Regions from separate parts of the Homo sapiens genome. Here region 1 is linked to region 2. A link means that fine-mapping ties the variant in region 2 to the expression of a gene that starts in the linked region. Tissue or cell type: whole blood. Region 2 holds a variant in brackets; the other region holds the start of a gene. All regions are shown on one strand. Distances are between the middles of the regions.

What was found. PIP is the estimated chance that this variant, and not a neighbour inherited with it, causes the effect.
Region 1: CX3CR1 starts here. The variant in region 2 is fine-mapped to the expression of CX3CR1 in whole blood (TOPMed, PIP above 0.99).

Annotation. Positions count from the first base shown.
Region 1 is chr3:39,277,100-39,282,292 of GRCh38, reverse strand. It overlaps CX3CR1 (C-X3-C motif chemokine receptor 1), which reads left to right and starts at 2,257. Exons shown (of 2, transcript NM_001337.4): 1 at 2,257-2,339.
Region 2 is chr3:39,214,432-39,219,624 of GRCh38, reverse strand. It overlaps DSTNP4 (DSTN pseudogene 4), which reads right to left. Exons shown (of 2, transcript XM_047449432.1): 2 at 4,953-5,193. The coding sequence ends at 4,953. Among named protein-coding and RNA genes, the nearest start is that of DSTNP4, 4.2 kb to the right of the region's middle. The variant G/A (reference allele first, on the strand shown) is at 3,224.

The DNA.
Region 1 (5,193 bases), 63 kb before region 2:
GGAGAGAATTCCCAGCGCTGAGCCAGAGACTCCTTTACAGAGGCCCAAGGAGGCGTGGAGGGAGGGGGAAGGCTGCCAAGGCTCTTTCTGTCTCCATGAGTGTGTCAAGAATGCAAAGCACTAATGCTCTTCACTTGGTCCATCTTGCAGGGTTGAGTTTGCAGTGAGCAACCTTGAAGGATGAGCTGACATCTCGCTCAGGGCCAAATAACCGACTTGCTTACTGCTTGCTATAAAATGGCACGTTACCCAAGGTCAGAGTTCCCTTCCTATAACCTCCCCATCCCTCACACATTCACAGGTATCTATCCAAGCCATGGCATCACTCTGTGGGGCTTGGGGGCAAGGCAACTGACACTGGACGCTGGTTCTCATGCTTGCCAAGCATGAAGCCCTGTGCTGCTAGCAGCTGTGGAACATAGCCGTTAGCTTTAAAAGAGGGTAAAATCACGTCCTGGACAGGACAGCCAGGTGAGTTGGGAAGGGAAGAGAGCCTGCCACGGGCACAGGCATGTTGGGGGAAGTGGAAGTGGTGAGAGCACAGTAGGAAGTGAGAAGGGGCGGGCCGTGCTTACCAGGCCGTGGACTTAAACCAGGATGAGAGAACCCCTGGAGGCGTTTAAGTTGGCAGACTTGGATTTCAGGAAGAGCTCTCTGGCTTCTGGGTGGAGAATGGCCAGTGGGGTAAGTGGTGAGAGGAAAGACAGAGAACGGAGAAGGTTAGATGGGCTTGGGAAATTATCCAGGCCCTGGATGGAGGTAGAGATGTGTGCTCATGAACACGGAGGGGATTACTGATGTGGGGTGGATGAGACTGTCGTCAAGAGTGTGGGACAGGAAGAGAGGGAGAGTCTTGGCCAGATCCAAGAAAGGAGCCCTCAGAAGAGGAGGGGAGTCAGAGGCAAGGAAGGGGCTGAGGCAGCCAGCCCAGCTGAGTGGACCCCAGGAGAGGTATCAAGGGGTGGTGTGGGGTGGGGAGGGGCCAGTGTCAGAAAGTGGATGGGGAGCGGCCTGACTCTGCTTTTGTCCTGTGGCCTTCTGGCCAAAGGCAGGGAAAGGTGGCCAAACACTGAGACCAAGAACAAAGAAAGAAAACTGCTGGTGGACTTCTTCCACCATGAGCAGGCCACCAAGCCCGCAGCACTGCACTGCAGCCCCCAGCTCTGTCCTGGGGTTGGGGGAGGTGAGGAGGGGCAAGGTGGGGAGCACACAGAGCACCCGCTGTCCTCGGAACACCACAGCGACTAGAGGTAAGGGAGCACCGGATGTGGCTGGGATGTGGGCAGCAAGGGGCCAGAGGGGCCTTGAAGGGGTCACAGACCATTTAATGAAGGTGTATTGAAGGCCACCATGGGCCAGGCCCTAGTTAGGGATGGATCAGAATTATATAGCATATGCCAGGGGTCAGGCAGGTAATGAAGTGATCGGAAGGTGATGAGGCAGTGGCAGTTGAGATTCACGTTGCAGTCGCCCCAAGCTGGCCAGGCCAGGGAGCAGAAGCATGGCTGGATGCCGGAGCCCACCAGGCTCCCCACTGCAGGGCAAGAGTGGCAGGGGGAGAGACTGTGAAAGGAGCATAGGCCAGGTCCTGGGTGAAAGCTGTGTCCTCAGCCTTGACTGATGGGTATAGGGAGCCACTAAATGCCTTGGGGCAGAGAGGTGAGGAAAAAAATATTTACCGAGCATCTACAAGGTGCAAGGTACTCACTAGATGCCTTCAGTACCAAAGCTTCTCAAACTTAGTATGCATATCACTCTTCTAAGAATTTCATTAAAATGCAGATTCTAATTCAGCAGATATAGGGCAGGGCTTGAGGTGCTGTCTTTAATAAGCTCCCAGTGCCTGGGACTGCACTTTGAGGAGAAGAGCTGTGTGTGCCCCAGTGTGGTCCAGTGAGTACTCTGGGCTCCCTCTCGTGGGCAGGGAAGCTGAGGGCCCCATGAGCTCTCCCAGCTTCCTGAAGGCTCCCCATTAATGAGAGCTGACTGTGCTGTGCTTTGCTGACTGCAGGGCCTGCTCCCTGCCCCCCACCTCCAGGTTGGGGTAAGTGGCACCTCTCTCCCTCCAGCTCCGCAGTCTTCCCTGAGGTTTAGATCTTCCAGGTTTATAAAGTCAGGCCCTCCTGTTGGCAGCTGGCCTCCACCCTGGAGTATCTGAGCTTGCCTGTGGCAGCATCTAAAGATAGTCTCCCTTACAGGAAACAAGATACTATTGGCTAACTCTGCAAATAAAATGCTCTTAGAGGGAAGGAAAGGGAAATACTCGTCTCTGGTAAAGTCTGAGCAGGACAGGGTGGCTGACTGGCAGATCCAGAGGTTCCCTTGGCAGTCCACGCCAGGTAGGTGCACAGGACTAGTTGGGTACCTGTGGGTGGGGTGGAGCAGTGGACAGCTAATAGGTTAATAATGCCTGTTTGCTTACGTGCAGACAATGGAAACCATTTTCCTGGGGATGTTGTAGCCTAAATATGTCCAAGGGGATGGAAGAGTGGGAGGCAAGGGGTGATCAGATCATTTATAATACACTCAACCTGGTGGAATAGTATTAGAAGCATTAGTAATTACATTTTAGAGACATGGAGAAAAGCTCATGATTTTAAACTAACTGAAAAAAGCATGAAAAATTGCATCTGGATGCTGTTGAGGAATTATTGCTAATTTTTTGAGATGAGAAATTGTATTAAAGTCTTTTTCAAAAAAGAGTCCTTAACTTTTAGAGATGCACACAAGTGTTTATGGGTGAAATTAAATAATTCAGTAGAGACATTAAGTGGGAAATAGAGGAAATATTGACCATGGGTTGCTAATAGTTGAAGCCAGGTGTTGGGTATAAGGAGGTTCTCGCTGCTTTTATTTGAAAAGTTGCTTTTTATTTGAAAATTTAATAATAAAGAGTTTTTAAATTTGTATCTGTATTTTAATATAAATATAAATGCACTTAATATAAATATAAAATATGTATAACATTTAGATAGAGAAAAGCTAAAAGATTACTGTGGTTGATTCTAGGAAACTGCATTGCAGATAGTTTCATGGGTTTTTTTTTCCTTTTTCTTCCACTTTTTGTACCATCTATGGGTTTTTGTTTGTTTTTTGTTTTTTGGGTTTTCTTTCTTGTTTGTGTTTTGTTTTTTGAGACGGAGTTTTGCTCTTGTTGCCTAAGCTGGAGTGCAATGGCACAGTCTCGGCTCACTGCAACCTCTGCCTCCTGGGTTCAAGTGATTCTCCTGCCTCAGCCTCCCAAGTAGCTGGGATTATAGGCATGTACCACCGCCCGGCTAATTTTGTATTTTTAGTAGAGGCGGGGTTTCTCCATTAATAAATTCCTGGCACAAATTTAGTGTTCAATTTTGATATATGTTGTTATAACCATTGTGAGGATACTCAGGCTCAGGTTTGTGTGGGTGGAAAACATGGTCTTCAGAAAGAAATTATGAGTGCAAGACAGGAGGAAATCCATCAGAGGCCCCAGCTGAGGACTGACCACGGCTTGTTATTTCTCTTGCCTTGCCTCTGGCAATCACAGCCTCACAGAGCCTGCAATCCTTGCTTTGTGAGTTTATAGCTCAGTCCAGAGAATGGCTAAGAAAGTTTAGGATTCTTTCAACACCCACTCCACAAAAAAAAAAAAAAAAAAGAAAAGAAAAAAAAATTAATTTTTGAAATACTTGAGGTAGAAAACTTGAGGCAGAAAAAAATTGAGCCAAAAAAAAAGGAAAATTGAACCACGTGAAAGCAGGCAAGAAAGCTTGCATTGCTCAGGGCATCCCAGGCCCAGAGGGCGCTTTGGAGGGAGCTGGGTTTCCTGAGAGGAGGCAGGGTGGGTGACGGACCTGTGCTGGAGAGCCTTGAGGACCACTGTGGGTTGGGAATGGGGGCAGTGGATTGGGGTTCAAAACCCCTGGGAATGAGAAATGGGCTCAGGAAGGCTAGGGTGGATTCTTTCATCTTCCTCTTTGCTTGGCTTTATTTTCACAAAGGAAGGCAGGGCAGGAAATAGTCTCAGCCCAACTTCAGTGTGGTTCTTCTTAGTGCTCAGGCTTACCTGGCACTTGCCACACCTCTGGGATGGGAGCACCTACTATCCATCAGCCACGTGCCAGTCTCCACAAAGTCTGCTCCTGAACCCTGCTCCTCAGCTGGCCCCACTTCACAGATGGGGACATAGGCAGCTTGGCTTTGGAATGAAGGAATGAAGTCAGGAATGAAGTCCTGGCTCTGCACTTGGTGACTGTGCACTGGGCTTGCTAAGTCTGTTTCCTGCTTTTAAAATGGAGATTGTCCATCAGCCTTTGAAGCCATGTAATGGGTATGTGTCAACTTTCTGCAAGGATTAAAGGCATGGTATAGGAAGTCCCAAACACACTGCCTGACCCATCTTTGATGCTCAAGAAACGATATATGTTGTTGTCATGAGGAAACTGAGCCTCAGAAAGTTTGGATACCTGAAAAACACTGACTACTATTGAATGAGGTTGTGAAGAATCCAGAGCTGTAGGGGCAGGAAAGCAAAGAACGTATTAGAGCTGACCCAGTCAGGACGATCGTCTATCCCCTTCCTCACCCCACCCCATCCCAGGAGGAAGCCTGCCCGGCCCTAGGCAGCTATGGCACAGTGGCAATGTCAGGTATGGTTCTCCCTAGCCAGAGACCCTAGCCTCAAAAAACCTCCTTCTTGGGATCCAGGCATCCAACTGCTCCTCCCCAGCCCCAGCCTCTGACCCAGTATCCTGAGTCCAGAGACGTTTGGAACCAGCACCTGTAATGGAGGAGCTGAACAAGGAGGGGAACTTCTGCTGCTCCACAGCAGGTCACGGTCATAGGAGGGAGTGGAACCAGAATGGCAGAATCCAGATCTTGGCTGCCTTTCCCAAGGACTTGTTCTGATTCCTAGCAGCACAGCCCAGGCATTCCGAGAAGTTGGGCTCTCTGGCATCACTCACTCTGCCCAGAAGAGCCAGGGGAAAGTTGGGGCTTCTAGCTGAACCTTGATCCCACCTGCCCTCTTGAGGGGCTCAGAATCTGCTGGCTGCTTCACAGGTGGGATTCTCACGGCACGCTGGCCACAGCTGATGCTTCGACCCCCTCATCTTGTTTGGCCAAAGTGCAGCTTTTTAGCTTGTGAGTAAGGAAGAAAAGCTGTATCATATGTCTTTAAACATCTTCCTAGACCACCTTTGTTTTCCCCTTAAA
Region 2 (5,193 bases):
GGGGGCATGTCTATAGCTCATAGGTACAAATTTCAATGGTTATCCTCTAGCCAAATCTGGAATAATTTGATATTAAAATAAATACTGATGGTAATGGATTAAATCTGCTGAATAAAATAGGAATCCATGAGTCTATGTCAATAAAAATAAGTAGAGGATTGAGTATGAGTAATTTTTTTAAAAAGTAAAAAAGTAAGTGGAGGAAAAGGGAAATGTCTTCCTTATAGTAGCATAGCAGCTAATATATATCGTAGGAATGATGATAATGGATAAACCACCATTTACAACCGCCATAATGGTGGTTAATTCAGGCAAAAGTAATCAATAACTACTAAGTCAAGTTAGTGGAGATTTAATGGGATACAAGATATTGGCATAGTTTGAGAATATCTTCCCACAAAATGTTCATCAATTACAAATAGAAAATTGATGAGTTAATGTGGAGAAACCTGACACAAAATGACCAGGTGCTAAAGATGAACATCACCAGTGTAGGGACAAGCCCACGTTGTATGCCCCCTCGTGTGATGCAGTGAGAAGAGGACAGCCTCCCTTCCGTATAGCACTCCCAGAACACATGTGTGAACCCAGTCCTGAGGAAACACTGCTGGAACCAGGCTGAGCTTTGGCACTCCAAGAACACATGTGTGAACCCAGTCCTGACAAAATATGGGTAGAACCAGGCTGAGCTTCGGCACTCCCAGAACACAAATGTGAATCCAGTCCTGAGGAAACATTGGTGGAACCAGGCTGAGCTTCGTCCTAGAGACTGAAAGGTCTGCACTCTTTCAAACTAATGAGATCATGAAAAACAGGGAGAGACCAAGGAATTATTCCAGATTGAAAGAGACTAAAGAGACTTGTGTATGAAGTACAAAGTGTGATCCTGGCCTAGACAGGAAAGAGACACTGTTAGGACAGCTGGCAAAATATGAATATATTCTTTGGATTAGATGTTAGTGTTAGAGCTGATTTCTTATTTCCTGACTGGAAGAGTTGTATGCTGGTTATGTAGAAGAGTGTCCTTGGTTTGGAAAGATGCATGCTGAAGATTTTGGGAATTTGGTGCATCATGTTGCAAATGTATTTTTTAATAAATTTATTTATATGTATTTTATATATTTTTATCTTACATAATATATAACTATATCATATGCATATTACTTATGAATATATCATTAGTATCACCAGACAGAGCATCTATAATTTTGTCTTTCAGGTCTACCGTTGATTTTTTTCATTTTAACAAATATTTCTAATTTCCTAGAATTCTTTCTTGCAAGTTTTTCCATAGCAATCTATTTTTGTTTTCCAAACAGAAGATATTCTTGATACTCCATTCAATTTTGGACATTGCCAGTTGAACATTCCACAGTACTGCAATATCAGCCTGCTCAAAGCTGAATTCTCCATCTTTTCCTACAAGCCTGTGGATCCTATAGTCTTGTGGGCCACTGAAAGCAATAGCTTTCTTTCTAAGTTGGGTAGGAAGCCATTGAAGGGTTTTGAACAGAGAAGTGACATAATAAAATTTGCATTTTAAAAGAATCACCCTAGCTGTATTGAAAATAGACTGTAAGGAGGCAACGGAAGAAGAGAAGATTCCAGTTGGAAGTAGGATAATCAATAATCCTGGTTTGCCCAGGGCTGAGGGATTTCCTGAGACTGGACTTTCAGTGCAAAAACTGGGAAAGTACCAGGCAAACTGTGACAAGCTGGCTACTCTGGTTAGGAGACTATTTCAGAAGGTTCTGGTGTGAAACGATGATAGCTTGGACCAGCTAAATGGAGATGATTATGAGATGTCAGATTCTGGATATATAATGGGTAAGTTTTATATAATACATAATGCATGGGATGTGTCAAGTGAGGAAAAGAGAAGATTCCTGTGTTCTCAGATTGAGTACTAGGAGACCTGAATTAGCATTTACTGAGGGATGAGGGGGACTGTGGAAGAAGCTATTTTGGAGGTAAGGGGTAGGTCAAGAGCTCAATTTGGGACTTTCTAAGCATAAGATGCCTATGATCCAAAAGGGGATGTTACAAGGCAGTGAAATACATGAGCCTTGAGATCAGAGGAAAGAAGTTAGGATTATAGATATTATATATACATGGACTTTAAAAAGAAATTCATGAAGTGTAGATAAAGAAGAGAATAGATCAAGAACTGAGTCCTGGAGATCCCAATATTAGGAGGGTGGACAGTGGAGGGAGAACCACCAATAGAGAGTGAGAAGGAGCTGCCAGTGAGATCAGAGGCAAACCAGGAGAGTGCAGGGGTCCTGGAAGCCAAGTAAAGATGGTGCTTCAAGGTAGGTGGCATGATTCCCTGCATCCAGTGGAATCTGGGGCCTGCAAATTGACCTTTGGGTCTAGTTATAAGGAGGTCATTGTTGAACTTGACAAGATTTGTTTGGGTAGAGTGGTGGGGGCAAAATCTTGATTAAAGGAGAATGGGGGTGGGCACTGTGGCTCAAGACTAATCTCAGCACTTTGGGAGGCCAAGGTGGGCAGATCACTTGAGGTCAGGAGTTCAAGACCAGTCTGGCCAACATGGTGAAACTCTGTCTCTACTAAAAATACAAAAATTAACTGAGCATGGTGACGTGTGCCTGTAGTCCCAGCTACTTGGAAGGCTGAGGCAGGAGAATCGCTTGAACCCAGGGGGCAGAGATTGCAGTGAGCCAAGTTTGCGCCACTGCACTGCAGCCTGGGTGACAGAGTGAGACTCCGTCTCAAAAAGAGAGACAGAGAGAGAGACAATGGGAGACGAAAGGCAGTAGCTGGAGGGGAAGGTGGAAATGCTTTTTGTGGTTTTTTAAGATGTGAAAAATAACAGCATGTTTGCAGATGGGAATAATACAGTAGAGAGGGGAGAAATGATGATTCAGGAGAGAAGGCAGAGAATGGTGAAGCCATGTTCTTAAGAAGCGGAGAGAGGTTAGGATCTAGGGCTTCAGGGAAAGAGCCAGCCTGAGCTAAGAGTAGAGACAATTACTGCACACAAATAGGAAGGAAGACAAGGCATGTGGGTACTGGGTCAGGAGACTGAGTGGATCTGGCAATGGGAGCTCATGAAAATTCTCTTCTGGCACTTCTAATTCTCAAGAAAGTAAGGAGCAAGGTAATCAGCTGAGGTGGCATGGGGAGACTGCACTGGAGGTCTGAAAGAGGTAAGCTATAAAGGCATCGCCTAGGGGAGCAGATGGAATGGGGAAAGAAG[G/A]ACAGCTGCTGAGCAGCACTCTGAGCTACTTGAGGTTTCAGTGGTCATGGATTTAGAGAGAGAGACCAGTCAGCACTTTACAACTTTCAGTTCCCTTAATGCTATCTGTTTTTTTTTTTTTTCCTGTTTGTTCATCTTAGTCCTTCTCAATTTTACTGTTGGTTTTGCAGAAATGTCTGGTGGTCCATGGTGGCCCATTTATATTTGAAGAAAAAGGGCTGGGTTAATTCACATAGGTGACTGAAGACACTCAAAGCTCCCCTCCCCAATTACTAAATAGGCTGAATGGAAAAAAGACCTACAACCAGACACGTCATGGTCAAGTTTCAGAACACCAAAAATGAAGAGGCAATCTTAAAGTCTTCAGGCACACACACAAAAATGATAACAGCAGTAAAAGCTGTCACACACACACACAAAAAGGTGTCAGAATGCCATCAGCAATCCTGGGGGCTGGAAAATAAAAAGCAAGCCTTTAAAGTTCTAGAATTCTAGACCTAGCTCAATCACCAATACAGCAAAATGGTAGAATAAACATACCTTTCATCGTATTTAGGATGTGTTCCAACAAAATAAGGAAATCAAAGAAAGACAAGGGCAGGAAAGAGTGAATCCATCTCAGAAGAGCAATGAAGGGAAAGCCCAGGATGAAGGTTTACCTTTCATTACTCTTAATTGCACGCCTTTTCTCAGGTTCAAATGTCTTTACCTTGTGCATTTATCACTTCCACAACTGTTTCTTTTGAAACAGAGTCTTGCTCTGTCACCCAGTCTGGATTGCAGTGGCGCAATCTCTGCTCACGCAACCTCCCTCCCGCATTCAAGTGATTCTCATCCCTCAGCCACCTGAGTAGCTGGGATTACAGGCACGCACCACCATGCCCAACCAATTTTTGTATTTTTAGTAGAGGCGGGGTTTCACCATGTTGGCCAGGCTGGTCTCGAACTCCTGACCTCAAGTGATCCACCCACCTCAGCCTCCCAAAGTGTTGGGATTACAGGCGTGAGCCACTGTGCCCAGCCTAACAACTATTTTTGTTTAAATAACTCTTTACCTCTCAGATCATCAAAATTCTGGACACTGTAACTTCTCCCCCCATATGACTCGAAGTGTTGGAAAAATATGTATGTTTAATTCCTTACTAATTTTTCACATCAAACCTCTTTCTTTTTCATATTATCAGAAATATTTAGATTTAACTATTTATAACTGGGTTTCATTGTTATCAATAGTTACATAAATGCCTCTTCACAGAAAATGCTTCTTTATTATAGAAGCTCTCTTCGTTTTATTTTTAATTTATTTTACTTGAATTTAGTTTTCTTTTGGCTGAATCCTTTCAGCCATATCACCCTTTTCAGAAAAAGTTCCTGGGCAATATACTTTCCAAAATGTCTTTCTGTGACTTGTACACATTGATAATACACGAATGGGCATAATTTCTAGGGTTACACATTTTCTCCCCAAACTCTAAGACAATGCTCATGTGGCTTCTATTATTTAATTAAAAGAGGGTATGTATCCTTGGCTGTTTAGTGGAATCCTGTTTAGCAAATGCACACACCAGGAACTAAACATGACTCCCAGTACTGAATTCCATGAGCTACACATTCTATCTGAGCACTACTCTTGTTTTCTCTTTTTTAAAAACATATGTTTGCTTTATTTATATAGCAAGCGGATAACATTAAACATGGAAGCTTTCCATTTGTGGCACTGAATGATGGCCTACACAGAGCATCCTTCAAAAGCTGCAATTAAGTACCCATCTAACTTTTCAGCAATACAAGCCCAGTTGAGATCTTCTGGTCCATTTGCTTGAAATTTCTTTTTGATTGCATCCTTACAGCTTGTGAAGATCATTTTACTTTTCAGAGGTGGTAGTTCTGGTGCCCACAAAAACAAACAAACAAACAATACTCTTCCGGATTTCTTCGTTTCAAAGCTTGCATCATATAAAGCATAGCAG